7 separate regions of the Homo sapiens genome follow, and regions 2, 3, 4, 5, 6 and 7 are each reported to be linked to region 1. The links are microRNA targets in miRTarBase. Many come from high-throughput screens and were not tested one by one. Region 1 holds a microRNA gene; each other region holds the end of a gene's coding sequence. Distances are between the middles of the regions.

Evidence for each region. Region 1 holds the annotated microRNA hsa-miR-6808-5p (CAGGCAGGGAGGUGGGACCAUG, at 2,995-3,016, opposite strand). A microRNA usually pairs through its seed, bases 2 to 8, with sites in the 3' UTR of a target mRNA and lowers its output. Matches are read on the target gene's strand: a 7mer-m8 pairs with bases 2 to 8, a 7mer-A1 pairs with bases 2 to 7 and ends in A, and an 8mer does both.
Region 2: miRTarBase lists VTI1B as a target of hsa-miR-6808-5p. Seed matches in the 3' UTR shown: 7mer-m8 at 1,250-1,256, 7mer-m8 at 2,557-2,563 and 7mer-A1 at 2,571-2,577.
Region 3: miRTarBase lists ARHGAP35 as a target of hsa-miR-6808-5p. Seed matches in the 3' UTR shown: 7mer-m8 at 606-612.
Region 4: the mRNA of PRAG1 is a reported target of hsa-miR-6808-5p. Seed matches in the 3' UTR shown: 8mer at 659-666.
Region 5: the mRNA of ERCC6L2 is a reported target of hsa-miR-6808-5p. Seed matches in the 3' UTR shown: 7mer-m8 at 2,599-2,605 and 7mer-m8 at 2,736-2,742.
Region 6: miRTarBase lists IFFO2 as a target of hsa-miR-6808-5p. Seed matches in the 3' UTR shown: 7mer-m8 at 2,926-2,932, 7mer-m8 at 2,956-2,962, 7mer-m8 at 2,960-2,966, 7mer-m8 at 2,964-2,970, 7mer-m8 at 2,968-2,974 and 7mer-m8 at 2,972-2,978.
Region 7: miRTarBase lists LETM1 as a target of hsa-miR-6808-5p. Seed matches in the 3' UTR shown: 7mer-m8 at 1,501-1,507.

What each region holds. Positions count from the first base shown.
Region 1 is chr1:1,336,688-1,340,762 of GRCh38, forward strand. It overlaps MIR6808 (microRNA 6808), which reads right to left and starts at 3,021; the gene lies at 2,963-3,021. DVL1 (dishevelled segment polarity protein 1) reads right to left here. Exons shown (of 15, transcript NM_001330311.2): 6 at 3,723-3,816; 7 at 3,560-3,629; 8 at 3,351-3,490; 9 at 3,049-3,125; 10 at 2,895-2,962; 11 at 2,600-2,752; 12 at 1,835-1,966; 13 at 1,582-1,749; 14 at 1,290-1,496. RefSeq lists a silencer at 1,257-1,316.
Region 2 is chr14:67,647,512-67,651,586 of GRCh38, reverse strand. It overlaps VTI1B (vesicle transport through interaction with t-SNAREs 1B), which reads left to right. Exons shown (of 6, transcript NM_006370.3): 6 at 106-4,075. The coding sequence ends at 202. ARG2 (arginase 2) reads right to left here. Exons shown (of 8, transcript NM_001172.4): 7 at 3,404-3,540; 8 at 1-872. The coding sequence ends at 667. It also overlaps a transcript of GPHN not described here. Among named protein-coding and RNA genes, the nearest start is that of VTI1B, 25 kb to the left of the region's middle.
Region 3 is chr19:47,000,200-47,004,274 of GRCh38, reverse strand. ARHGAP35 (Rho GTPase activating protein 35) reads right to left here. Exons shown (of 7, transcript NM_004491.5): 7 at 1-3,944. The coding sequence ends at 3,587. Among named protein-coding and RNA genes, the nearest start is that of NPAS1, 18 kb to the left of the region's middle. RefSeq lists enhancers at 322-1,068, 1,069-1,814.
Region 4 is chr8:8,314,703-8,318,777 of GRCh38, reverse strand. It overlaps PRAG1 (PEAK1 related, kinase-activating pseudokinase 1), which reads left to right. Exons shown (of 6, transcript NM_001080826.3): 6 at 1-1,042. The coding sequence ends at 624. Among named protein-coding and RNA genes, the nearest start is that of PRAG1, 70 kb to the left of the region's middle.
Region 5 is chr9:96,012,697-96,016,771 of GRCh38, forward strand. It overlaps ERCC6L2 (ERCC excision repair 6 like 2), which reads left to right. Exons shown (of 19, transcript NM_020207.7): 19 at 1-4,075. The coding sequence ends at 507. Among named protein-coding and RNA genes, the nearest start is that of LINC00092, 7.1 kb to the right of the region's middle.
Region 6 is chr1:18,905,034-18,909,033 of GRCh38, reverse strand. IFFO2 (intermediate filament family orphan 2) reads left to right here. Exons shown (of 9, transcript NM_001136265.2): 9 at 368-4,000. The coding sequence ends at 473. Among named protein-coding and RNA genes, the nearest start is that of ALDH4A1, 4.5 kb to the right of the region's middle.
Region 7 is chr4:1,810,601-1,814,675 of GRCh38, forward strand. LETM1 (leucine zipper and EF-hand containing transmembrane protein 1) reads right to left here. Exons shown (of 14, transcript NM_012318.3): 14 at 879-3,973. The coding sequence ends at 3,824. Among named protein-coding and RNA genes, the nearest start is that of FGFR3, 19 kb to the left of the region's middle.

The DNA of each region.
Region 1 (4,075 bases):
AGCTGCGGCAGGCATGGGCTGGTGGGGGCAGTGGGAGGCAGGCAGGGTCCTGGGGCAAGCTGGGCGCCCCCACACCTCACCCCGATGCTTGAGCTGAGGGCCTGGTCTTGCGGCTGAAAGACTGAGGTGCCAGCGAGGGCCCCTCATGCCCGGTGCCCCCGTGGCCATCCTGGATTCCCCACCCAAGGCCCCACTGTCCCCCCGGCCCAGGACCCTGGCCGACGGATGACTCAGCTCAGCCCTGTCCTGGGCTCCCAAGACGCAGTGGGAGCTGGAGGGCGTGGCTGGCTGGGGACATGCTGAGGGACCCCGGGCGGGACCCTGGCTTACCGGCCCAAGGTCCGCTCCGCTAGTCCTTCAGTCTAAGGCTTGTTTAGCACAAGACAAGGGATAGCACGAGTTACACGCCCGGCTGCCTGGCACCTGCCCAGCACCCACCCGCCACCAGTGGGGACTGACCGCGGGCTGGGCGGGGCTGAAGTGGGCGCAAGCGCCGGTCGAGGGTCAGTAGACACCCAGCGTGGCTTCTCTGCGGTCCCACACCCTCTGGCCGCCTCTCCTCTCTCGCCCTCCTTCCTGGGCCCTCCACGAAGCCACCTGCACCCCTCCCTGGCCTGCAGACGCCCCTGCTGGCCTCACCAACCCCACCCACTGGGGCCTCTGCTCCACCAGGCAACACCTCAGGAACACTCTGGATCCCCGGCCCCTAAACACACCCCAGCCAGGGGCACAAGGCTAGGATGCACGGCACCATCCACGTCAGGCTCCCTACCCGGGCTGCAGCTGCCACCCTCCTGTGTCCTGGGGCCTAGAAAGTGACCCTGTCAGACTCCTTGGCCACCCCTGCCCTGTCCTTGTCACATGGCCCATGGCCACATGGTCTCAGGGCCTCCTGCCTCTACCATAGGAGAACCACCAGCCGCCACCCCTACCAGGCACAGCCGCCCAGGCCGCCAGGCTCCTGGAGGCCCCTCATCCCAATCCCACCCAGATGAGGTGGGGTCCAGGCTGCCCCTGTGTGAGACGCTTCCCTGTCCTCCCCATTCACACTGGCTCCTGGATCCCCCTGGCACTTGCCTTTTCCAGAAGGAGCCCACCCAGGGCCCAAGTACACAGCAGGAGCATGGGATTGGGGTCAGCAGAGAAGCAGGGCGGAGCAGCAGCGGGGTGGGGTGGAGCTGGGGGTGGAGCAGCAGCGGGGTGGGGTGGAACTGGGGGCGGAGCAGCAGTGGAGTGGGGCGGAGCTGGGGGCGGAGCCGGGGAAGGGCAGGTAGGGGCGGCGTTCTCACCTTCACTCTGCTGACTCCCGGTGCTGCCGCTGCCATAGCTAAAGCCCGGGTCCTGGTAGGCAGGCGGGAAGCAGGGTGGGGGTCCCGGGTACTGGTAGGGGTAGCCCTGACCCAGAGGCCAGGGGGCAGCCGGGTGGGGCAGCGGGGCCAGCGTGTCCTGATCCGAAGTCCCACTGGAGCCACTGTTGAGGTTCAGGGTGGCGAGATCTGGCGGGGGAGGGTAGGTGAGGGCCGCGGAGGGGCCTCCGGCGTTCCCCTCCCCCCCGCCCTGAAGCCCGAAGCCCCCACTCACTGCTGCAGAGATCCCCGAAGACGTAGTAGCACTGCTCGGAGAAGGTGATCTTGTTGACCGTGTGCCGCAGGAAGCCGTGCTTCAGCAAGCTGCTGGCGTACTTCCGGGCCTCCCGCCGCTCCTTGAAGCCCTCCACGTGTGTGTACAGCCAGTCCACCACGTCCGCCCCTGGCCGGCACCAGCGGTCAGCCCGCAGCCTCGAGGCAAGCAGCCCTGCCCCTGGCACTATCCGCCCGCGGGGACGGCCACTCACCGATGACGGCATTGGCGATGGTGATCTTGAGCCACATGCGGTCGCGGATCTCCAGTCCCGAGTCTGGCAGCTGCATGACCCGGACGACGGCGCTCATGTCACTCTTCACCGTCAGCGGCGCCTCTTCCAGCTCTGCAAAGCACAGACAGCCCCGCTTCAGCCCCAGCATCTGAAGGCGGGGGACTCAGGGCCCTGCACCCCCAGGGGAGCCTCTGGGCAGAGCCTGCGCCAGGGCGCAAGCTGGACGGTGCGTGACAGCAGGGCCCCGGCCCACTGCAGGATGCACCCCCGTGAGGCTGGGGCGTGAGCAGGGGGGTTGGACATTTAGTCTCCCACTTCTACAGACACTTTTCATCAGGATCCTAGGCACAAACTGGGCTGACACCCCACCCTGCAGACCAGGAAGTAATGAGAACAGGGCAGGCCCCTTCCCCTCCCCGCATGCCCCACCCGAGAGCGCAGGCTGTTAGTCGTGTTAATGGCAGGAAGCAGAATGGAGACCTGGCCCCTGCCTCTGACGCCGTGGGTGCTCCCCGCATAGGGGCCCTACGTACATCCCCTGTTCCCAACACACAGACCATGAGCAGGATGGGCTGCACAAGGTGGGCACGGGTGCCTGTGCACACGTCTGTGCAGGGAGTTGGGGACAGGCAACACACACGTGTCACAGCCCCATGACGGCCACAGGCGGCCATGCTGGAGGCTGGCAGAGACGCCCCCTCCAAGCCTCGGTTTCTGCTGGGGCCCTCAGGAGCTGCCACTTACGTGGAGCACCAGGCACGGAGCTGGTTAGTGAGGAGGAGCTGGTGCGCGTGACGGCGCTGGAGCAGGGACTCGTACCGTAGCGGGGCAGGGCTCCTGTCAGTGCCGCCGTGTGGGACAGCCAGGCGGCGGGGTCGATGGGCCGCACCGGGTCAGCTGGGTGGCCGCCACGTGGCGATGACAGGCGGACAGATGGACAGGGTGGGAGGGCAGGGTGCAGGGCACAGAGGAGAGAGGCCTTCAGGCTAGGTAGGCGCCCCCTCCCCATCCCGCCCCGTGTGCCCCGAGGGCCACTCACCCCGTGGGACGGTGAAGTAGCTTCGGGGCGTTGGGTCCCAGCACTTGGCCACAGTGAGGCTGATGGGCCTGCAGGAACGGTGGTCACACAGCAAGGCCCCCATGGTCCCACCTCCCTGCCTGGCCCCTCCCGCTCCAGCGCCCCCAGCCCTCACCCCGTCTGGGAAACGATCTCCCGCAGCACCCGCACGGCATCGTCATTGCTCATGTTCTCAAAGTTCACGTCATTCACCTGCAGGGGTGGGGATTAGGGTGGTGCAGGCAGGATGTGCAGCTCAGTCCACCGCCCCCGCAGACCCACCCACAGCCGCATGTCCCCCAGCAGCCCCCGCAGACCCACCCGCAGCCGCATGTCCCCCAGCAGCCCCTACAGACCCACCCGCAGCCGCACGTCACCCCAAAGTCCCCACGGACCCACCCGCAGCTACATGTCACCCCGCAGCCCCCACAGACACACCTGCAGCAACATGTCGCCGGGCTCGATGCGGCCGTCAGCGGCCACAGCCCCGCCCTTCATGATGGAGCCAATGTAGATGCCGCCGTCTCCACGGTCGTTGCTCTGCCCCACGATGCTGATGCCCAGAAAGTGATGTCTTTCTGCAGGAAGAGCCATGAGCCGCGGCCAAGCCCCTGCCCCTGCCCCCAACCCTCGCCCCGAGGCCTCACCCATGTTGAGCGTGACAGTGACGATGTTGAGGGACATGGTGGAGTCGGTTATGCTGCTGAAGGAGGAGGCCTATGGAGGAGAGGGGGCGTGTGTAAAAGGCACGGGGCTGCCCGACACTGACTTCGCCTCCCCAGCCCCGCCCTGCTCCACCCGGCTGCCTACCCGGTCCGCCTGCCGAAGGCGCTGCTTCCTCCGCCGGCGTTTGTGCTTCCGGATGAGTCTGGATGAGGTGCTCTGCTCCGTGGAGCTGCTGAGCCTGGGAACAGACTGTCAGAGCTCAGAGGAGCTGGAGACATGGGTAGGGGGGTGGGAACCCGCTCCCCCAATACTGAGTGGGAATCGGGGGTCTAGGCCAGGCTTGTTCCAAAGCAGGCTCAGTGCCTGACGTCCACGCCCCAGGCCCTGCACACGTGATATGCATATGAGCACACACGAAAATCCCAGAGACAGGCAAACTGGGCACAGACACATGTAGCCAGATCCACTACTGACACACCTGCACACATGCACACCTG
Region 2 (4,075 bases), not on the chromosome of region 1:
TACAGCCTCAGAGTATCCAGCCGTGGTCCCAGGTCTAACCCCAAAATGTTTAGAAGGAAGGTTATCCAAACTTCTGACTACTCCCCACTTTGCTTCTCTTTGTAGAGTGACAACCAACAAGCTGCTGCTTTCCATTATCATCTTACTGGAGCTCGCCATCCTGGGAGGCCTGGTTTACTACAAATTCTTTCGCAGCCATTGAACTTCTATAGGGAAGGGTTTGTGGACCAGAACTTTGACCTTGTGAATGCATGATGTTAGGGATGTGGATAGAATAAGCATATTGCTGCTGTGGGCTGACAGTTCAAGGATGCACTGTATAGCCAGGCTGTGGGAGGAGGGAGGAAAGATGAAAAACCACTTAAATGTGAAGGAACAACAGCAACAAGACCAGTATGATATACCAAGGTAATAAATGCTGTTTATGACTTCTTTAAATTTACATAGTACTGTAGCATATTAATACCCTGTGAACTGCAAAAAACCAAATACATTTACAGTAGTATTGGTCACCAAAATAGAGGGGAAACTTTACAATTGTGAGAATGTGTAAATGTTCTCATTAAGGCAGTATTGACCCAGACAACCATTTAGTATTCATCTATCCCCTCAATGCCTCATAATTCTGGAATGCCTGTTGTGAAACATGTCAGTGCACAGTGTCTCCTAAATTCTCACACGTGCTTGATTTTCTGATTCATCTGGTGAACTGGGAGTAGGAAGTTGGTCATAGACAATATGCCCTCCTTCTCTTGTCTGACCAAAGCTTGAAGCAATCACATCTACTGCCAGGTTAGCTGTAGTCTTCGCCTCTTCCTCTGAGGTGGCCAACTGAGGATTGACTTCAACAAGATCCAGTGCTGATAGCAACCCTGGAAGAACAAAGTGTGACAAAACCTCAGGTTCCCTTGCTGCTACTCTCAGTGAGGGTCATCCCACTGGGACAGGGAGAACAAGCCAAAGTAAAAACAAGAGTCCATTTTATAGTAGAAAATACCTATTTTTAGGAAGCCCCTTGCACCTCATCCTCTTGGCCATGAATTTAAGTTAAAACACTGTTGTGCTATAGTAGATTAAAAGAAACCTTTTAAGATAATGAAATAAACCATCCCTGTTCAACTAACATAACAGGCATAATTGTCAGGCGTTCTGGAAAAGGAAAAGGCTTGGTGTTGGGTGGGGGAGGTTTTCATCCTGCTTGTTGGCAAAATGTATGCCACCTCCAGTATGACTAGGAACCTTCCAGATGCCTGCCTGGAAATGAATCAAGTATGAAGGCAGAGGAAATCTGCCACTTGCACTAGCCAAACTGCATTCCCACTTTTGAACTCTAATGTGTTATCTGTATCTGTTAGAGCACCACACCATATGCCCTGAAATGTAGTTATTACTGCAAACTTCATTCTCACCCCTGCAGGCCTGAGCTCTGGAGGCAGGTTCCACATCTAACAACATCTTTTTGTCTCCCAGCAGACTGACCCAGTGTCTTGTACTTGATCAAGAGAAAATTCAGCCATATGTTAATTATTTTATCTGGACTTCAGTTACCTTCTGTTAAGGTTTGAGAACTTGTGTCAAAGTTCTCGGTAGTGTTCCTTTGGCCTGGAGCAAGTGGAAGGGAAGCTTAAACCAGAAGAACCTATCCAGACCTGCTACTATGCTCACCCCTCTAAATGCCTCACTTCTCTATAGAATTTAACTTTTTAGTTGGTTATTCTGGATGAAGGGTGATCTGAACAAGCTAGTATTCAGGAATACAAGTATCTAAGAATATTTAGGGTGGCCATAAAGTCTGGAAACACAGGCAAATGTACCTAATGGTTTATTGATATTACACTATAGTACATGATGTGCTGAATGCCATCATGTCCGTTCAGCATCTTCCCTTATTAGCAATGCATAGTTGAGTGTACAGTGCCAAACTGCAACCAACAGGTGTATTACTGTAGCATTTCCATCATTTCCTGCACATGGACCTGTGTTCCTGATTTGTCTCTGATTTCCACTGACTAAACCTGCACCTTTAGCATATCCCAGAAGTGGTCATCAAAGTTTGCACTATTAGAAATATATACATGACTTATGTTTCCAGACTATTGCCACCCTATAAATTAAGCAAACTGCTTTATGTATCTAGTTGACAGCATTATAACAGTGCAGTGGCACAATCATGGCTCACTGCAGCCTCAACCTCCCAAGTAGTTGGGACACCTGGCTAATTATTTTTTGTAGAAACGGGGTCACACTATGTTGCCCACGCTGGTCTTGAACCCCTGGGGTCAAGTAATCCTCTTGCCTTGGCCTCCCAGAGTACTGGGATTATAGGTATGAACCACTGTGCCTAGCCCCATGAGTGTCTTTTGGAGTAAAATATTGTAGCATAGGAACAAAGAGACAAGCCATGCCATATATAAGTGCTAGAGGTTATTAACCCCTGCTCTAAGTGGTGTTTTTAGGAAGCAAAGCAGAGAATTGAACCCCCAAGTTCTCTGGCCAATAACCTAAGGACCACTGGCAACATCTAAGATTGCAGATCTGAGAATTAGACCAGTACTGCCTGCCTTTTTGTACTGCCTAAGGTTCTGGCAGGCTGTGGCGCTAAGGAGACCATTTCTCAATGTGAGTTTCTATCCCAGCTAGTCAAGGGTTCTCTATAGCCCTGAACCTTTCAATCTGGGGTCTCTATCTATACCCTAGTTCCATCAGATGGTTACTGAAGCAGTATGATTTGGTAGTTCTTTAAATTTTGGAATGAAAGGTCATTTGAAGTAGCTTTAAAACCAGAAGCTTTCTGACAGAAATGGAAACTGTTTGCAAACAAGTATGAGTTTTGGAAAAGTAGCCAGTCTTGATAACGTAGAATTCATCTTAGTACTCTTTCCATCAGCCATTCTCATCTAACTGTATCCCCCTTATTAGAAATCCTTTCAGGCTCTAGTACAAGACCTACCCTACATAAAGGACCCAAGATATTGTCCAGTTTGCAGATTTCTTCAAGAGATCAGCTTTAGCTCCAAATTCACAACTCCCAATGAACCAATCTCTTAGAGTGCAAATTACAGCCTTGCACTCTTATCTTATCTTGCCTTCTTATCTTAATCTGCCTTTAGATAACTCAAAGAACTGCATCAGTTTGACAATTTATTCTTGTATTTAATTGTTTAAATATACAATTTTTTACTCATTATTACCTTAGTGTAATTTGGTAAGAGCCATGTCCAAGCATGACTCTAAAGGACTATATCCTTTTTATTAGCATGGCCATATAATTTTTAGCTACAAAAGTTTAAGCAAAAACAAACTCTGCAATGATGTGGAATAGCAGAAAAGATCCTTTGCAGGCAAGAGACTCTAGCATATTTACCTATGTAGTTAACAGGCTGCAGACCTGGTTGCTACATACCTGTATTGTGTATTTCCTCAGCAATATACATGCCTTCTCGATAGGTTAGTCCCCCGACAACAGGAGTTCCTGTGGCTGGAGCCAGTGTAGGGTCAAATGCATCAATATCAAAACTCAAATGGATTGGTCTTTGTCTCCTAAAAAGGAAGAGGATAAAATAATACTTAAAATAATACTTAACTGGTTGTCCTTGGACACTCATCCTTCTTATGGTTGCAACTCCTTGATTTTGTTGCTATTAGTCCTAGTACTTTGTTAATAAAGCTGTTAATACATTTCCAGGCTTCCTATTCTTGGAAGTTACTGAGATTGGCAATATTAACTTCCTACATACCACTTCATGATACTGCCATTTGTTCTGCATACCTCAGACAGACTAACTCCAATGTATATTTCTGCCTTACACTGGGTATTAGAACCTCTTATACTAATAACTGTCAATAGAGAGATTTCTTCACTTCTAGATGAGATTGGGCTCTCATCTAGAGACAATTTAATTAGACAATTTAAATTAGTCTAATTTAAATTGGCTTGATGTAAGTTATGGTTGCTCTTATTCTCTGAACGTAACAGCAGCTGAAGTGAACTCTAATTTTAGGTCTGCAGTTTTAACATCTTCCATTTCTAACTTCATTATAGCCCCAGTGTCCAAAGGCTGAAGCTAACAACTAA
Region 3 (4,075 bases), not on the chromosome of region 1:
CTGCCCCCTTCCTGGGCCACTTTCTGACCTGGACACAGACGATGTCCTCCGAGGGAGGGAGCCCACCCCCGTTACACCTCAGAGCCACGAAGCCGGCGCCCGCTCCCTGCCGCAGCTTCCCCGGATCCCTGCGCTGCCCTCGGGAAAGCAGCGACTCAACCAGACCCAGCCCCCCGCGCGGCAGGGGCCCTCCTGGCCACCGCACCCTACTTTTTCTAGCCGGCGCCCCCAAAGCAGTGGCTTCTCATAGGAAAGGATGGGAGGGGGGCGCAGCTGAGGTGACTCTTGATGACAAGTCACTGCAGCTGGCCTGCTGTGAAGTTTTGTGTGTGTGTGTGTGTGTGTGTGTGTGTGTGCGTGTCCAGAATGCCTGGTGGCCTGCGGGGGTCTTTACCAAGGGGATGCTGGCTTGACCCAGGCCTCCTTTCCCTAAGAGCAGCAGGAGCTGAGTGAGGCACAGGGATGCCCCCATCCCCTTCTGGCCAGCGAGCTGCTCCTATGATGTCACCCTCTGTCCACCGTGACAAAGACAGACACATCCTGCAGAAGAATCTGGGTCGCAGCAGGTGCCCTGCCTCCAGCAGGAAGCAAAACCAAGGCGGTGGAGGCAGGAGAGCACGGAGACAGACGCCCCGAAGCTCTCTCCCTGTTCCTCCCCAAACGCTAGGCGATGGGAAAGACGGGGACAATGCAGAGTAAATGTGTGCCGTGACACCCAGTATGCGACACAAGCCAAGAATTCTAAGTGGATTCACGAGCCACGCCACCCAGCCTTGGGTCTTCCCTCTTCAGCCGTCAGAGCCAGGATCAGTCTCTGGCTTTGCACCAAGGGCTGCTGTCCCCTCACACGGTGTCTGCGCTCTCGCTGGGCAGGGGTGGCTGCCCCACGTCCCCATTCTGGACAAGCCAACGCCCTCCCACCCAGTGCTGAGAGCTGCATGCGAGTCCCATGAGCACCCTCTGTGCACACACCTTCCAGAACTTAGAGCCCCAACAAAAGCGGGAGTGGGGGCAGCATGGTCCCAACAATCCCCAGGGACGCTCCTCTGTGGCTCCCATGCAAGTGCCCATTTGGGCTGCACGCTTCCCTGACCGGACGCTGAAGGCCGGCCTGCCACGACTGGCCATGCCCCTCAAACGACCGAGATGTCCTCTAGTCCCTCAGCCCGGAGCAGCAGATGAGAGGCTGAAGTTAGCGGGGGAAACAAGAGGAACCCTGTGGCTTCCTGTGCATGGGGGCTCCCTTTGGACATAAGCTGCCACAGTCCCTGCCTGCCCACCTTGGCTGACAAGGCGCTGCATTGGGAGTGCCCCAGACCTAGTTTCAGGTACTTCTGTGAGGAGAGGGGTAGAGAGCCCAGGTGCTCCTCCTCACCACCCCCTCCACACTCCTGGGGAAGTCACTGGCCGCACATACATCTGTGGAATCGGGCCAGGTGGCTTGGGACGTGGCTTTTGTGCTCACACAAAAGAGGTGGCAGTGTTAGCTCAAGCAGTGAGGGGGACTGGGCTGCTTTTGCCTGCGTTCACACAGGGACGGCCCAGGGCACCACCATGCTTTCCCTCCACCCCCAATTACGTGAGGAGCTGACCAGGTGAGCATAACCTCGAAAAGGGGGCGGGGTCAGTAAATGGGGCCGTTTCCTCATCTGCTGGGGTCCAGGGCTGGGGGAGTTTGGGAACGTTTCTGCCAACCTCAGCTAAAACGAAACACAGATGTCACCTTCCAGCCAACCCTGGGCCTACAGGGCCAGGCACAGCTCCACCAGAAGAGACAAAAATTCATCATCCAACATTCACAGAAAACACGCCTGAACCCTGGGTTTGTTCTCCGATTTGTGTTCCTCAAAAGGCGGTAAAACTTGCAAGGTTAGGTGTTTCCAAGCACCTTCGTTGGCCATTGAGAACTGGAGACAGTGAGCCAGCCGTCCCCAGAGGGAGCTCGGGAGCCGAAGGGCCACTCCCGTCTCCAACCACTGCAGGCGGGCACGGGCAGGGCAGCTGCAGACGCCCGGGAAAGGTGTCCATCAGGCCCCCTGGAATACACCACAGATCCTATTTCTTAAAGTGCAACGAGCCCCAAGGGCTGTCTGGCATGGGGCCCTCTGCACCCCACTAGCTCTCGCCTGGGGGGTGCCTAGTGTCAGGCTTCCTGGCCGCAGAGGCCACAGCCCAGCCATGCAAGTTTGAGGTGCTGGGGGGCAGAGGTGGCCAGGAGAAGAGCTTTTCCTGGGGCAGTGGGAAGGCTGGGCTAGGGTGGTGGTGGATGATATGCAGGCACAGCGCCTCTGGGTCAGCGAAGACCAGGAAGGATGCCCCTTCGAGGGCACCAGCAGACCGCCATTCCTTCAAAGTGCCCCACCTCGCCCACATCCCCATGAACACTCCTGCTGGTGGCCTCCATGGCTGGGATGAAACGATTCCACTTCAACACCCAACACACCAACCCCAACCCCAAGTGCACCTGGCACCTTCCAGCTGTCCCCAACCCCCCACCAAGCGCCCACACACACTCACACTCACATGTGCACACACACCCCCACCCCACGCACATGCTCAATTAGTGTTTCTATCGTAATGGACTGTGTTCTGGGGCAGCCCAGGTTCCAGCCTGCACTGCCATCTCCCCAGCTGTCCCCACCAAGGGCTCGAACCCTCTTCTTGGGAAAACGGGGGATCTAGCGACTAGACCTAAGTGGGTGAGTGGGACCCCAGCAGGCCCTCAGGCCACAGCTCCAGGCATCCTGGTTTTGCTGCCACAAAGACGAGGGTCAGCTCCACCTGTGTGCCTCCCTCCCTCCCGGCAGAGGCGGGCACAGAGTGGAATCTTGAGGTCTGTAGTTTTCTTTCTGTGGTTTCTTCCTTTTTAATTACTGGAAGGGTTTTTCCATTTTTTCTCCTAGTGTTCCTTTGTTTGCCAGGGAATGTTTCGGGAAGGCTGTGGAGTGGGACGGTGGGGATGAAGCGGGGAGTCCCACACTCTCTGGGTCCAGGCACAAAGCTATCCTCCGTTGTTCTGATCTGCAGAGCCAGCGCCCTCAGCAGGTACCTAGTGGTGGCAGAGCCGTGGCCTACACGTTCCCAAGGAGGCCGCCAGCCGGGCTGTACCCTTACCTTGGGGGTGTGTGCAGATGGAAGGTGGGAAGAGACAGACCAACAGGAAGTGTTCTCTTCAGGGGTTGCCAGCCCCACCCTGAATCTCAGAGCATCCTCCTCCCCGGCAAAGGCCAGGGCACTGTCCCGACCATGGGCTCTGTACAAGCAGAGGGAGGCACCCGGAGGCTGGTGTGAGCAGCTACGTGGGGTGGTGGTCCAGGGAACAGAGGGAGGGCACTGGAGCCATTGCCTGCCTAGTTCAGTCCTCAAATGGGTCCAAGCCAGCTCAGGTCTGCAGCGCCAGGCCCAGGGTACCTGGCAGCCCAGCCGATGGTACCATTGGCTGGTGCTCCCACTGAGGTCTTGAGAAGGTAATGGGGAGAGCCACTTGCCCCTGCCTCTGTCCCCAGTGGACTTGGTTTTGTTCAAGGCCAAATGCCACCCCGTCAGAGAGAGGACCGGTTCTCCTGTCGCCCCAGGTCTTGGTGGCTCACAGCGTGTGTTCGGCTTGAAGCTGGGAGGGAAGCAGTGGCTGCATTGGGGACTGGGGGGTGGGTGGAGGCGACTGTGGGGGCGACGGCTGACTTGTGACAGGCGTGGAAGTGAGGAAGGGGACGGTGGAAGCCACGGCAGAGGGGGAGCTGGGCCTGGCGCCGGGGGGCTCGGTGATGGGCCGATTGTAGAAGAAGAAGGGGCACTGCTGGATAAAGAGTTCAATGATTGTCTGGTAGGTGCGCGTGGCTGTGAGGGCGTCCATAGTGCTGAAATCAGGTCTCATCAAGGTGGGCCAGAAGCAGATGGAGAGGTTCTCGCTGGTCATGAGATTCACCTTGTTGTTGTGGCTGACCCTGCGGGCGACACCAAACTCAATGGTCAGAACTGTGCAGGGCCCCACCTGGCCCTGGGCGCTCATGGTCTTCAGCACCCAGGCTGAGCCCACCTTTCTTCCCTCAGGTGGAGCAGAAAAGGCCATGCGCAG
Region 4 (4,075 bases), not on the chromosome of region 1:
TCCCCGGAAGGGCCCCGGGAGAAGCAGCTGCCCCGGCTCATCATCAGCAACTTTTTGAAGGCCAAGCAGAAGCCGGGCGGCACCCCAAACCTGCAGCAGAAGAAGAGCCAGGCCCGGCTGGCCCCCGAGATCGTGTCTGCTTCCCAGTACCGCAAGTTCGATGAGTTCCAGACAGGCATCCTCATCTACGAGCTGCTGCACCAACCCAACCCGTTCGAGGTGCGCGCCCAGCTGCGGGAGAGAGACTACCGGCAGGAGGACCTGCCGCCGCTGCCCGCGCTGTCCCTCTACTCACCCGGCCTGCAGCAGCTGGCACATCTGCTACTGGAGGCCGACCCCATCAAGCGTATCCGCATCGGCGAGGCCAAGCGCGTGCTGCAGTGCCTGCTGTGGGGGCCTCGGCGCGAGCTGGTGCAGCAGCCGGGCACCTCGGAGGAGGCGCTGTGCGGCACGCTGCACAACTGGATCGACATGAAGCGGGCCCTGATGATGATGAAGTTTGCGGAGAAGGCGGTGGATCGCAGGCGGGGCGTGGAGCTGGAGGACTGGCTTTGCTGCCAGTACCTGGCGTCTGCGGAGCCCGGGGCCCTCTTACAGTCGCTGAAGCTCCTGCAGCTTCTGTGAGCCAAGCCCCAGCCTGCACCGTCGCTGCCCCTTCCCTGCCTAACCCTTTCCTGTCTCGCCTTGGAAGCACCCATGTCTCCCTGGGAAATGGTACAGATGACTGGGATACCTGGATGTAAAATATATAAATATATATATAGAAAATACATATACCATATATAAATATGAAAGACTAAGGATGCTGTTGCCCGTCCACACTCGTCTCCTCTCTGCACTAAGTCCTCCCTGTTTTCTTCTGTAATTATACACATTTCCAGTTCCATGCAACGTCCTGAGGACAGTTCTGTGAACTGAATGCAGCCTGGACACTGGCCTCAATACCTTGTTTAGGATTTCTTCACCCTTTTGTCAAATTGTTATTTAAAGAAAAAAAAAAAAGAAGAAAATTCCATTAAAATTTTTTTTGGTTGAGTCATGAGCAAAGCTCTTTATCCTTAAGTGCCTGAGTGTATTAATATGTTTGGTGGGTAAAACGGAGCTGTCTTTGGTCTTAACGCTTTTCAGGAGATAGAGCAGCAGTCTGCAAAGGACCAGGCAAGTGGGTACCAATTCATCTTCCCTGTTTCTCTTCCCACCTGGCAGCCTTCTGGAAAGAATCCAGACACAGCCGCTGTGATCCCAGTGGTTTGGAATTCAAACCCATTTCCAGTTTGCTAAAGCTGGTTGCCATTTGTAAAATTCAGAGACGTGCCTGAAAACAGAGTCCACCCCAGATGGCTCAGATGAAAAGAACTTAAGGGGACCACTTAGCTAGGTGTGATCAGGGTTATGAGAACAAAGGGTGACAAGGCCAAAAGCAAGGGCCAGAACAGCAGGACAGGGGAACATACAGGAGGTATTCGCGCTGAGATCTCTACAGCCGGAGATGGGAGTCTCTGTTTCCCATCTGTCATCTCCAACCTAATAGGATGCCAGACAGCAAGGGACCTTGGGTGATGCAGTCTGGAGGATCAGCCTCCTGGGGCAGGGAGGAGGGAGAGAATGCATGGGACGCCAGGTGGCAAACGGCCCACTGTTCCTACCGTACTAGATACTGGCAGGGCAAGCATAGAATTCAGGTGTTTCAACTCCCAGGCCAGTACTCCCTCTGCTGTTCGGGCCTCCTTCAAGTCTCCTTTTCTAAAACCTCATTTAACGCACCCATTGGCACCTACAGCTTACTGGAGTCAATGTTTGTTACTATGCCTTTAAAAACACACAAGGAAAATTAGGAGGCATCAGATCTTTCCTCCTCAAAACTAGACACAGGCACGAAAGTCAAAAATTACCTATTTGAAGAGAAATAGCCCCAAGACTCTTGTATTTCTACCTAATGGGTAATCTTCCAACTACAGAACTAATTGATTTCTAAAACCTTGTGAATAACTCTGGACAAATTAAAACAAATACAAAGATCTGAATGGATGTTTTAGAAACCTGGGGATGCACTTAGCAGGAAGGATAGGGAACTCTCCCAGGTCCTCTTCTGCATATTAATTTCAATCCTTTTGTGAGTTCCACCTTCCAGCCCCTGACTACATGTAAACACATTCATCTTTCCATGCATCGTTGGTGAAGACAGCACCTGGGGCGCATTTGTAATTTCAATTGTTTCCTGAGCATTGAGGAAAGAACTGAACCAAAACCAGCTCCCAACCCGTTTGTACAAGAGAAGGAGTCTGCAAACGTGGAAATCATATTTCTCCCCAGGACCTATCTGTTTCGGGGGGGCATTATTTGCCAGTTCTTTCTTTGTCCCTCGGAATTTTCCAGGCAAACCTTCTGCCATCAATTTGCTGTCTTTTGCTTTTTTGTCCTTTTTCACTTCAAGTAAATAAACAATGGAGAGGGAGGAGCAAATATTCTGACAGGGGAATGCAGTGCCATTAGAAAATAAGGCCCAGCGTGGTGGCTCATGCCTGTAATCCCAGCAATTTGGGAGGCCAAGACATGTCAATCACCTAAGGTCAGGAGCTTGAGACCAGCCTGGCCAACATGGAGAAACCCTGTCTCTACTAAAAATACAAAAATTAGGTGGGTGTGCATGCCTGTAATCCCAGCTACTCAGGAGGCTGAAGCAGGAGAATCACTTGAACCCAGGAGGTGGAGGTTACGGTGAGCCAAGATCATACCACTGCATTCCAGCTTGGGTAACAAGAGTGAGACTCTATCAAAAAAAAGAAGAAAGAGAAGAAAAGAAAAGAAAGAAAAAGAAAGAAATAAAGGAAAAAAGAGAAAGAAAGAGAAAAAAAGAAAGGGAAAGAAAGAAAGAAGGAGAGAGAAAGAAAGAAAGAAAGAAATGTCTTAGGAGCCACATTTTTAATTCCTGAATTAATTGCAACTTTTTTATACCACCCACTTCAGAAAAAAAAAATGAGGTTGTAAAAACTGTTCTAAGAACCAACATGAACCAAAAAATAAAGGATAAAGAAGAAACAATAGCAATAAATTCTGAATGAGAGGAATAAGAGCAATTAAACATAAAACTTACTTCTGAGCTGTCCACCAACCTATAAAAAGAAAACTGGTTGCAGAATTCTTTTTTGTGTGCAATTTTAGGAAACAGTTCGTCAGAAGGAAGAAATTTTTGCCCAGTGCTTGGTTCTGAAGGAAATTTGTCAAGGATTCTTTGTTTGAAGACATTGAATAATGCCCCAATAGCAGTTTTAAAAAGAAAAAAAAAAAAAAAGAATTTTTTGAACATAGGTGTCATGAGCGATGCCAGGTTAAAAATAACCAGGTCCACACATGCTTGTGTCTTTCCAGAATGTCAGGCTTTTATTGATGCTAATTCAGTCACAAAAGCCAGAGGCTACATGGAGTTCCCAAGGAAGCAATTCTCTTTAGTACCTCCTGTTCTCTTGGTAGTCAGAGCCGCAGGCACACAGGCTTGAGCCACTCCACAAGTCAGTCAATATGGGAAACCATACATAATAGTATGCTTAATCAATATACATATATTACAGATTAAACATTCCACAATAAACAAAGTAGCATTGAACATGAAGAGGAGAAAGAGATAGGAGAAAGGTTAAGGAACCAGTCCAGTGGGAGCAGGTCAGTCTTGCAAGGAAAAGTGTTTGAGGTGGCAGAAGCAGATGCCAAGTTCTTATCATGAGTGACTGCAAGACAGTATCAGTTAAGACAGCCCCATTTCGAGCTGCTGAAGGCCTGACATTTTAAAGTCACAGAGGCCTCTGGTGAGAACTGATCTTGGACGAGTGTCCTTGTTTGTGTCTTTATCTGATTGGATGCAATCTTTATCTTTTTTATTTATTAAACAAAACATCTTATCCTTGTTGGCAAAGTGCCCTCTGAAACATAAAATGAAGTCTTATTCTAAGATGGAGTTTGTTATATCAAGGGTACTCTATACAATAGGGCATTTTTTTATCGCTACCATTGGTGAAGTTTAAATATGGAGTGTTAAAATCTAGTTTCCTCAAGTTCTCTGGAAATGCTTGCCTACTCA
Region 5 (4,075 bases), not on the chromosome of region 1:
CGTTCTCTGAACAGTGAGTCTGAAACACGTGAGAGAAGGTTAGAAAATACCATGAAAGACCAACAGGACCTCACAAGAACGGGCATTTCAAGAAAAGAACCCCTTCTCAAATTGGAAAACAAAAAGATAGAAAATCCAGTGCTGGAAAATACTTCTGTGATAAGCTTACTTGGTGATACCTCTATTCTTGATGACCTTTTTAAAAGTCATGGGAACAGTCCCACACAACTGCCAAAGAAAGTTCTTTCAGGGCCCATGGAAAAAGCAAAACAGAGACCAAAAGATTTCTGGGACATCTTGAATGAGCAGAATGATGAGAGTCTTAGTAAACTCACAGACTTGGCAGTAATAGAGACTCTGTGTGAAAAAGCACCTCTAGCAGCACCCTTTAAAAGGAGAGAAGAGCCAGCAACTTCTCTTTGGAAATCAAATGAGAAATTTTTATGGAAGAAATTTAGCCCAAGTGATACAGATGAAAACGCAACCAATACACAGAGTACCACATAAGCATATAAATGAATTACTGCACCAGTAAACTGCTGCCATCACTGTTTACGGCACTGGATTCCACACTGATTCTATTATCTTGAACACAGTTGTTGACATATATTTTTATTAAATTATTGCTTTAGGATTTTTTGAAGTCTAAAGTATTGTCATGGATCTGTTTTTCTTGATATTTGATTTGATCTTTCAAGAATATGATTGTATTTATAGTATAAACCTCTGTTATGAATTAGAAAAGATTCTAGGTTTGTTAATAGGAGACCTGGGACATCTTTCTTACTATATTACATAATGATGTGACACTTGCCCCGGTGAGCATTGTTTCCCAGTATGAAAGATGAAGAGTCTGTACCGAATCAGCATGAGTGTCCTTCCAGTTTAAAAAAGCTTTGCTTCGCTCTCCTAATGGCTCATAGGCTGAATCATGTCTGCCCCTCAAATCAGGTGTATACCAATGTGTTTTTTACTAGCACTTGGGAAAGTTATTAAGTATTTTCTTTTTCCCTGGGCATCATGTTCTATTATTATTTTAGAAAAAAGTCATAATTGGTACTGAATATATGGTATATATAATATTAAAATGGTAATTTTGCAACAGCTCAAAATTAAAAGGTTAATGTTATACACTTTACTATATGAGCTGTGATTACTACCATTAGCCACAGATACCAGTGCCTCAACTTTTTATGTACCTATTGTGATTTAATGTAAATAAAGGTTTGTATAGTACTTTTGTAGTTCTTAAGTATGAAGAAATGGGTAAACTTTTTATTTTGTTAGAAACTGTTATATTTTGAGTGTAATATTTATGGTTTATAGCAAAATGAATGTGCTTATTGTTGAATGCATGTATTTAGAAGCCTTTACTCAGCCCCTGTGTTCTGTGCTAGGAGCTTGAGCTCTACAGGTAAGGCAGAGCTACCGGTGAATGAAAGGAAATCATGTCAGTGAAAAATCATGGTGGAAAGCCCCTGGCATCACATGTGCATGCTGTAGGCAGGACCTGAGCTGCCTCCGCTGCAGGTTCAGATGCACCGCTGCAGCTGTCCTTCAGTTAGTTCACAGGGCTGCAAGAGGAGGACACATCCCTCCAGAAAACAGCCTGAGCCGGGAACTGGCTGTGCTAAAGAGCACTGCTATCAAGTTGAGGAGAGAGGGCTTCCGTGTACTCAGGATGTAGAGTCATTGCTCAGAAGTGAACAAAAAATCAAAAACAAAAGTCTTCTCAAGGGACTGATCGGCCAAGTATGCTTTTCTTTAGAGCAATGTTTTGCCCTAGAGAATTGTAAAATTTATGTCATGACTCAGTACATATGTGTTCGTACATATATGATTGGAATAAAATGTTTATGAAATATTTACTCATAAGCCATGTAACATACTTTGACATTTTTCTCTTCTAGGATTGTGTTTGGTAGGGCAGTGGGTTTGTGTGTGTGTTAATCCTCTCACAACCCACTGAATTGAATTTCATGGCCCATGGTTAAGATCCACAGTGTGAAAACGCTGTTTTAAATTATATGAGTTCGTCATTTGTTTGCTCTGTGCAGCTGAGTTGTGTCCAGACTTACCAGATGGTATGTTTTGCCATTGAGGGGCCTTCTACACAATGAGTGCATGATATGGTCCTTGATAGACTTGACTTGTAGATGTTTTCAGCCTACAATGTGATCAGCTATCTGAGGAACTCCAGTAAGTAGATACCACTTCATTTCAGTTTATATACAAGACAATGTAGTTCAAACATTTTAATACCTTGTAAATTATGATATTCATATAAATATTAGCTCTATAGTCTTCATATATGTACAGTTTTTTTTTTTTTTTTTTTTTTTTTGAGATTGAGTCTCACTCTGTCACCCAGGCTGGAGTACAGTGGCATGATCTTGGCTCACTGCAACCTCCACCTCCCTCCCAAACAACTCTTATGCCTCAGCCTCCTGAGTAGCTAGGATTACAGGTGTGTACCACCACACTCAGCTAAACATTTTTTTTTTTTTTTGAGACGGAGTCTCACTCTGTCGCCAGGCTGGAGTGCAGTGGCTCGATCTTGGCTCACTGCAGCCTCCGCCCCCCGAGTCAAGCAATTCTCCTGCCTCAGCCTCCCGAGTAGCTGGGACTACAGGTGCGTGCCACCACGCCCAGCTAATTTTTTTGTGTTTTTAGTAGGGATGGGGTTTCACCATGTTGGCCAGGCTGGTCTCAATCTCCTGGCTGCAAGCGATCCACCTGCCTTGTCCTCCCAAAGTGCTGGGATTACAGGTGTGAGCCACCATGCCCAGCCAATAAATGCTATTAAAGAAACTTTTAGGCCGGGCACAGTGGCTCACGCCTGTAATCCCAGCACTTTGGGAGGCCGAGGCAGGCGGATCACAAGGTCATGAGATCGAGACTATCCTGGCTAACGCGGTGAAACCCCGTCTCTACTAAAAAAAAAAAAAATACAAAAATTAGCCAGGCGTGGTGGTGGGCGCCTGTAGTCCCAGCTACTCGGGAGGCTGAGGCAGGAGAATGGCGTGAACCTGGGAGGCAGAGCTTGCAGTGAGCCAGGATTGTGCCCCTGCACCCCAGCCTGGGTGACAGAGCAAGACTCCATCTCAAAAAAGGAAACTTTTATCAATAGTAGTCAAAATGGGAGCAAAAATGCAGAACTGGAGTTTAAAAATTAGTTTCCAACAGTTGTCAGTGAAATATTTATCACTATTATGTAGGAAAGTGTGTCAGGTGGAATGCAGAGTCCAGTATGAAAAGGAGCCTGTTTCAGAACGGAAACTGTCAGGTGGAGTGGACTCCCTGCAATGGAGTGATGGAAAGATTTGGTACAACCATTGATGACCTGAGAACAGACACTAGGAAGGTTTGACAAGATCCTTCCTACCCCCACTCCACTGGTGATGTGTCACCAAGTTCTGCTAACTAAATGGGTGGCCTCAAGCAAATCCCTTACCTCCTTTTAGCCTTAGTTTCCCCTTTAAATTGGTGATGGATTAGATCAGTGGTGGTCAGCCATTTTCTTAAAGCAACTGAACTGTATCTTAATCAGAAACTTAACTAGTAAAACAATTAAAATGCAAGTCTGTTGCTTCAAGCAACACCACTGTGGCTCCATGGAGCACTAATTTGAAAACCACAGAGATGAGATCATTTCTAAGAAAACCTTTCAACTTTGTTTCCATGATGCTACTTGCCACAATCTTTTTTACTTAAGCAATGATACCGTTTCTGGCTGAACACTCACCACACAGCTATTAATATTGGAAACTGAGGCAAGATACCAAGAGATTTTTGCACTTGAATTCCTCAGGGTTCTCTTACAGCCCTGAAAACACCTCTTCAAGGAAATAAATAACATCTGCAAATGGTGCAGCTGCCCCTAAGTATTCAAGGCAAAGAAGCCTTAGTTTGCAGAGATGATGATAAACTTTTCATCCTTCCACAGAAAATGAGAAAGCCACAGGAAATACACGGTTATTTTCTAATTAAAGTTCAATGTGTACGCTTTTAAATTCTGAAGTTATCCTTCTTTTATGATATCAAAATAGCCCTCTTTTTTGAAATGATGGTAGAT
Region 6 (4,000 bases), 18 Mb from region 1:
GATGTTAACCATATCCCGCATGGCCTCCTTTTGAGCTCTGAGTCATTCAGGTTTTACTTAGCACCTACTATATGCCCAGACATGGGTTAGGTGCTTGGAGAGTAACAGCCAAACTTGATCCACGGTCCAGCTCCCAAGGGGCTTTCTTCCTAGAGAAGCCAACACAGCCAGACCAAGTAGGGGCTGGTGCAGGGGGTTACCTCGTGAGCTTAAAGGATCTTAAGGATAGCTGAGTGAGGCAGGAGCTCAGGACCAGGCCCCTCTGAGAGTAGATCTTATAGAAGTGGCAGCTCAGCCTTCCCACTCCTTGACCCTTCAGAGGCCCAGGGCTGCTCTCTGAATTTCCCCACTCTCTTGTGCTTCTCAGGAATTCACCGTCCCCCAGCTCCGTGGCCAGCAGCGACTCAGGAAGTACAGATGAGATCCAGGATGAGTTCGAGCGCGAGGCGGATGTGGAGCCCATGGTCAGCTGATGACTGAGGCCCTGCGAGCCTGGTGGTCTTGGTGATGGGGCCCTGCCACCTCTCCTCATGGGGCCAGGAAGGCCCCTCGGAGTGGGGTTCGAAGCCACACCACACAGACTTTCTCTGCCCTCCCTTCTCTGGAGGCCCTGAGGGACTGCTGCTTCCTTCCTTCCTTCCACACCACCAACGGGTGCCCCGTCTCCATCCCCCACCCACCCAAGGAATGGTGCTGTCAATTTCTATTGTTCTCCACATTACAAATGCAGACTTCTGTGCGGACTTTGCAGTGTTAACTGTGCCTTCTCCCTTAAGCTGAGCCACTTTGAGCTCCAAAGAATTATTCCTAGCAGGTGTTTTTATACAGAACTCTAAGCTGAGGGCCGGGCCAACCGGCCGTGGTGTAATGTGGTTTCTGCCGTCCGTCCCACCTGCTCCTCTGATTGGCCATGGGCTATGCCCTCCCTTCCTCCTGAGCCAGCCCAGACTCGGCCTGGAGCTTGGGGTGCTCTGCCAACCCCCAGGAAGGAGCCGCTTGCCTCTGTGAGCTTTCTAGGCCTGGGTAGGGACCACCCCAATTTTCTCACTCCCTGAAGGAGAGAAAGGTGGAAGGAAGGGAAGGAGGACACATTTTAATTTTTTGGGGGGATCGAGTGGCAAAGTTGAAGGGACAAGGCACTGTGAGGGGAAGGCAGAGCCTCACTGTGTTTAAACTACTATGCAAAAAACAAAACAAACAACAAAAGCAGCTTGCCTTATATCATTGTGGAAGGCAGGACCTCTCCTGGGCTCCTGGCTTCCCCCTGGAGCTGGGAGAGAGGCCGGGGTTAGGGTGATCTGTGTGGCAGCACTGACTGGGTAGTGTGGGTTTGGCCGAGGTTGGTCATGAGGCTGGGGTTCCCGCAAGGCACTGGCCTCCCTGACCGCTTGCTTCCTTCCGGACCTCTGGGTTCAGGGCGGGGGCGGAGGGATCCTTGATTTCCCTGATAACTTGATGTTCTTCCCTCCCTCGCCAGCCAACAATAGAGGCTTAGAGATCTGTAATTTCTCTGTGAGAAAGTCTGAAGGGGCCAGGCCTGGTCTCTGCTCCCTTCTACCCGCCTTGGGTTAGGACTGTCCGGCAGTTGCCTGCTTTTGGCTGCTGGCAGGAGAGAAGCAGGGTGGGCTGCTGGCAGTGCAGGAGCTGGAGTGAGGGCCATCCTCTTTCTGCTCCTCGACACACGCAAGCCGCTCTCAGCAGTTCCCTCGACTGGCCAGTCGGGGTATTGATCTGAGCCAGCATCCCCCAAGACTTGAATGGCTTGAGTGGGACTGCGTTGAAGGGCACTGTGTGGCCCCCTTCCAAATCTCAGCTTGGAGCCAGCTGAGCAGGCTTTGCTTTATTATTATTTTTTAAGCCTACTGCAGTGGGTCTGTTGCCAATTTTAATTTTTTATTGTCCCAGGAGCTCCCTCTAGTGGTCAAGGTAGCAAAATGTGCCCAAGGACTAGAACTTGGGTCCCTCTGCCTTGCCTGGAGGCAGAAGGAGGGGGCTCTGGGTTTGACTGGGATTGTGGTCCCCAGGGGTCCGTGGCCTTTAAGGCTCTTCTCTCTTTTCTGTTTCCCCCACCTGTGTTACAGTCTTAAAAATACTGTACATAAAAGATATATGTAGAGAGAGAGAGAGAGCGTGAGAATGTGTTAGTGACTATGTGTGATGTAATTTATCACGATTTGGTGGCCTTCGTCATGAGTTTTTTCCTTTGTTTTCTTTTGCTGGGGGCACCTCCCACGGGTCCCCTGTGGCAGTCTGGCTGTGACACTTCCATAGTCAGCATCTCTTGTTAGCCAAACAGTTCCCTTTGACAGGTACTTGGAGGGACAATGGTTTTGGAAGAGAGACGGCCCTTCTCTCTCCTCACTCACCCTTGTTCTAAAGGTTACAGGGTTCAAACATACCTGATTCTTGTTGTTATTGTTGTTGAATTTTTATTTTAACCAAAGGTTATCAGAGCCAGTTGGGCTTGGACCTCAGCTGCTAAAAAGATTTTCCGTTTCCTCGAGGGCAGGAAAACATCCACCCTCGTGGGTCTCCTCCGTCCAGGGCCGAGGGAGGCATTGGACAATGTGGTATGGGAGTTTCGTGGGCAGCGTGGAAGCCGGCCCTGGGTTGTTCCCCAAGGTGGTGGGAGGGTGACAGATATATCTTTAGACTTAAGACTGTAAGGCAGCAGTGTTAGCATGGGAGTAACTAAGGTTACTGTGGTTATCGGTGTCCGGCGGTATTATTTTTACTTTCCTCCTTGTATACATAGGTCATTTGTCTTTGAGGACTAGGGTACTCTAGGGAGTTTGAAAACTGCAGGAGCCAGAAAGAGATCCTGGCCTGAGAGTCCCTTCTGGCTGGCTTTTAATATCTGCTCTCCTCTTGGGAGTGAGGACTTGGGGCAGGTGGGTAGGAGAGGGAAAGCCAGAGTGTGATGGGCCTGCCTCCTGGGCTGGTTCCTGGGTCCGGCCTGCCTGCCTGCCTGCCTGCCTCTCCACCACATGCTTTTTTCAGTTAATGTCAGTGGGCCCTGCTTGTCCCCTCACCATGAGCCCACAGCTTGCCAAGAAAGACCCCAACGCTCGCTGGGGCAGCACCAGTCCTAGCTGGGACGAATTGGTCCATCCTTTGTAAAGCTGTAAATACTTAATTTTGACTTTCTATTTCTAAGCCCAGTGTCATATTGACACTGGTATTTTAGAATTTTCTCAGATGGGCTCTCCTGCGCTGCCCTCTGTCTCCTGTTTTTGGGGGTTTTATACAAACAGAGGATTGGGGAGGGATAGGAAGACTAGCATCCTTTTGGCTCCCTGGTTGGTTGTGAAATACACACACACACACACACACACACACACACACTCGCACTCCTCTGAGACTCCGAACAGAGAAAAAAATTATTGGCAAATCAACACATTTTTCTTTCTCGTCTTGAGAAAATGTCTTGAGGTCCCTGAAGGGCCAAATCCATCGTGGACTAACTCTGTGGGTAGAGCTCAGATGACCTAGGGAGAATTAAACCACTTAAGCTTGGAGTGGGAGGAGAGGGGGTGGGGTGGGGGAGAATATAAGATGTAACTTAAGCTAAATGTAATCTATTTATAAAGCAAGAGACTCTCATCTATTTTTATGAAAGGAAGGGTTTTTTAATCTAGGGTAGGCAGTTGTGGTAGCCCAGCATTTTCCTGTGGACGAGACATGGTGCATGTTGTTGCTGGATTGAATGGAACCCATTCCTGTCCCCCGGCCTCGTCTTCTGTCCTCACTTTTGGTCATCCACACCCATGAGCAGCTTCAGCAGAGTGTAGGTCCCACTTCACCCCATTCTCCTCTCCTCTGACCCCTCAGCTCCTTGGAAGTCTTGGGGTGGGGATCTGAGGGGGTGGGTGGGCTGCAGGAAATTCAGAAATGTGGTGGGTGGGGGAAGGGACAAGGCGCATTAGGGAGGGAACAAGCTGGGCTCTGGGGATAGGCTCTGATTAATTAGTTACTCTGACTCTGGTCTGCCGAGATCCAT
Region 7 (4,075 bases), not on the chromosome of region 1:
GGGAGCACCTCCCACCCCAGCTGTGGGTCCATCATTTCCTCTGATTAATTAGGGCCTAGGGGTCAAGGGAGGCCCCGAGGGAGGACTCTCAGTGTGAACAAACCAGCAGCCAGGGCCGCAGAGAAGCCTGTGAGGTGCCCACAGGGCCTGGTCCCAGTGTGGGCAGAGCACCTAAGGGATGGCTTCTGTCCACTGAGAAGGGTCGGGAGCCAAGACACCACACTGCTATCCTGGCGCTGGAACCATCCACGCACTCCTGCAGCCAGGCCACGCTGAGGCAGGTAGGCACCCAGAGGTCCGGGCTGGGGGCTGCTCTCCATGGCCCCAGGCCATCACACATCCCTCAGGGCGTCTGGGCCCTGCCTGTGGGCTGGACTGCAGGCTGAAGGCCCTGCCTCATCCAGGACTCCCTAGGGCAGTACTCGGTGCTCTTTCCCCTCAGCGGCCTGAGGAGTCTTTCAGAAGAGCTGGCCCTCCTGGGTGACACCTCGGCGAGGGTCCCAGCCCCTAACCCCAGGACTCCCAAGAAGTCACTGAGGTCCCCAGAGCAGGGAGAGCATGACCAGGTGGCAGGGCCACTGGCCTGGAGAACGTCCCACACTGTTCCATGAGCAGCTCACGCTGTCACAGGACCTGGGGACGTGGGTCTCCTGACCCTGCAGGCCCATCCTGCAGAGCAGGAAGCGTGAAGCCAAGGGCTGAACCCATGGAGGGCGGCCCAGCACTCAAACCCCCAGGGATGGTGAGGCTCCTTCTGGAACTGGCCTCACAGCCACACGCGCCCCAAGGCCCAGCCCCTGCAGCCACGTGGACAGCTCTGCCGGCTTCCACTCGCTCCTGTGTGCCCAACGGTTCAGAAATATTATTACTCTGCACTGTTACAGGAACACAGATTTGATGTTTTAATAAAAATACGATTTCTACAAAAGGTGCTTAACACGGCCCAGGACGGGCTGTCCGGTGGAGTCAGCCGTAGGACCCCTGAAGGATTTACAAAGACAGAGCCGGCTCACCAGCACACTCCTGCCAGCACCGGGACCCACTGCGAACAAAGACAGAGCCGGCTCCCCAGCACGCTCCTGCTAGCCCTGGGACCCACTGTGAGCCACTGCGGGGTGTCCTTCATTTAAAAAAAGTCTGGACTGTGACACTGCAGAAGGAGTCTGAAAGCCCAATTCCTGAATCCCTGCGTTAGAACTGAGAGTTCAGGCCGGGCGCGGTGGCTCATGCCTGTAATCCCAGCACTTTGGGAGGCTGAGGCGGGTGGATCACCTGAGGTCAGGAGTTGAAGACCAGCCTGACCAACATGATGAAACCCCATCTCTAATAAAAACTTGCCCGTAATCCCAGCACTTTGGGAGGCCGAGGTGAGTAGATCACGAAGTCAGGAGATCGAGACCATCCTGGCTAACACGGTAAAACACTGTCTCTAATAAAAATACAAAAAAATTAGCCAGGTGTGGTGGCGGGTGCTTGTAGTCCTGGCTACTCGGGAGGCTGAGGCAGGAGAATGGCGTGAACCCAGGAAGCGGAGCTGGCAGTGAGCCGAGATCACGCCATTGCACTCCAGCCTGGGAGACAGAGCAAGACTCTGTCTCAAAAAAAAAAAAAAAAATTAGCTGGGCATGGTGGCGCATGCCTGTAATCCCAATTACTCAGGAGGCTGAGGCAGAAGAATCGCTTGAACCCGGGAGGTGGAGCTTGCAGTGAGCCGAGATCGCACCACTGCACTCCAGCCTGGGTGACAGAGCGAGACTCTGTATCAAAAAAAAAAAAAAAAAAAAAAAAAAGTGAGTGCTTAGCTGGAGTGAGGAGGAAACACTGAATTCCTAAATCAGGAATTCGTTTCATTTTCACCAGGCGCAGATATCCTAGCTCCTGAAAAAGGCCAAGACCGAGGGTCTGGCCCTGGGCAGGTGTAAGAAAGGACTGTTTTAAGAAGCTTATTACACAAAGCTCATATTTCTGGATCCACCACTGCTTACATTTGCACCCAGACACCACTTTTAGGTGCAAGAAGAAAGGTCAGGACATAGAGAAAAATGCACACAGAACGATGAGGGAGAATGACGAGGGAGAATGACGAGGGAGCAAGCCTGCATCAGAGCACGGCTGATGTCACGGAAGCCACCAAAGGCACCCACCAGAGCCTTCCCCACCTGCAAAGCCCCTGCAGCACCCGGAGGGCAAGCTGGCTTTTGGAGGCCATGCGGAGTCCAGGGCAGAGGGGACAGTGGGATGGGCTGCCTGTTGCAGTGGCTGTTCACGTCAACAGTGCTCAGCCAAGGCAGTGAGGACGAGGATGAGAGCCGGGGCAGCTGACTGGGCCCGCGATGCCGCTCACAGGAGAGGCGTCTGCACACACCTGGCAACTGCAAGACTTGTTCTCAAGGGTAAGTACACTTGGACAAACGAACACCAGGCTACTTACACAGGGTGAGAGAATTCATAAATATTAGTTAAGGATCTAAAACAAACTTCTCAAATAACTGAAAGCTGAAAGCCTCTGGAAGCCAACTGTCCCTGCACAAAGGTTTACAATTGAGAAATATCTCCTGTTCCTATTTTGTCAAGTTTCTTTAATGGCTGAACAGAAAGAAGCTTCAAGTAATGGAGAAGGCATTGTCTGAGTGCAGCTGCTTTCCTGGACGCCTGTGCCGTTCCTGTCTTCCAAATCCTATGCTTGGAGGCCCCTGGAGGTACATTTTTGCCAGGAACCAACCTGACCTTAAAAAGATGAGTGTGACACAGCCGGCTGGGCAGGAGGATGGAGGTGCCACAGGACACCACCTGCCCACGCCCTGGCCAGCCTGGCCATGCTGCCGAGTGCGGGGAGGCCACCCCACCCAGAGGGCACAGGGCAAACCCTAAGCACGGGGGTATTGCCCTTGAAGCCCCAGGGGATGCCCTGTGCCGGATCCTCATGCCTCATTGACTAGCCTGCTTGCTGAAGGAGCCCAGGGGCCTGAGCCTGCAACACTGCAAGGGGTGAGAAGGGCATGCTGCTGTGGGCGCACTGGACTCAAACCTCACATTAGAAGCTACAAAGAACCCCAAATGCGCTTCAGAGCCCCACCAACCCCCAAGCCAGGCTCATCCCTGACACAGTGAATCCACTGCAGCCCCCGTGGGAAACTCTGTGCCAATTGACTGCTTAAAGAACTGGGGGAAATAGAAAGCCGAGAAAGAGCTCCGATACACAAGGGAAACCGCACGTGAGAACCAGCACTCCCAGCAGGGAGACGTCACTCTCCAGAGGCCACAGAGATGGCAGACACCTCTGTCTCCACAATGACCCACATCCAACTGAAAGTGTGCAGGAAGACAGGTCTATTGACACTGAAATCTAGAAATCAAGGTCCACAGGCGAATGGAGGCATCTTCAGCCCTGAGGAGGCCAGGCTGTGTCTCCTGACGCCCCTGAGGGTGGGCACAGCAGCCAGCTCTGTGTGGGCGGAGTCCACGTGGTCCTCATTCTCTTCCCTGGGGACAGGGCAGCACAGTCAGATGCTGAGACTGAGGCCACACACATGGGGGCGCCTTCCTGCCTTGGCCCAGCCCAGCTGCCTCTGGAGCCAGGAGGCCGTGGCAGCCACACCACAGTGTGGATCCAGACACGATTCTGTGGAGGGGTTCCGGGATTCCAGACAGACTGAATCTCCGTGGAATGATGAAAATTAAAATTTACTTGATTATGGAAGTCTCTGATTTATTCCAGCCAAAATATTAGATGAGCCACTGAGAATCACCACAAAGCAATCGCCCTCACGGCCCTTGCCAGGGTGACGGCACAGCAGGAGGACAGGTGCCCAGGCCAGTGGTTCTAGCTCTTCACCTCTGCGACCTCCTTCTCTGCCTTCTCTTTGGCCTTCTCCTTCTCCTCCACCTTCTCCTCTTTTTCCAGTGTTGCTACAATCTCAGCCACCTGGCTGGTGGAGATGTGAACATCTTCTTTGTCCACCAGCTCAATCACCTACACACGTGGGAAAGGGAGAGGCTCAGGTGGCTGCGCCCTACAGCACAGTGAGGCAGAGGCGGGGCCAGCGCCGTCAGTCGCCCCAGCTGGGGTGGCAGC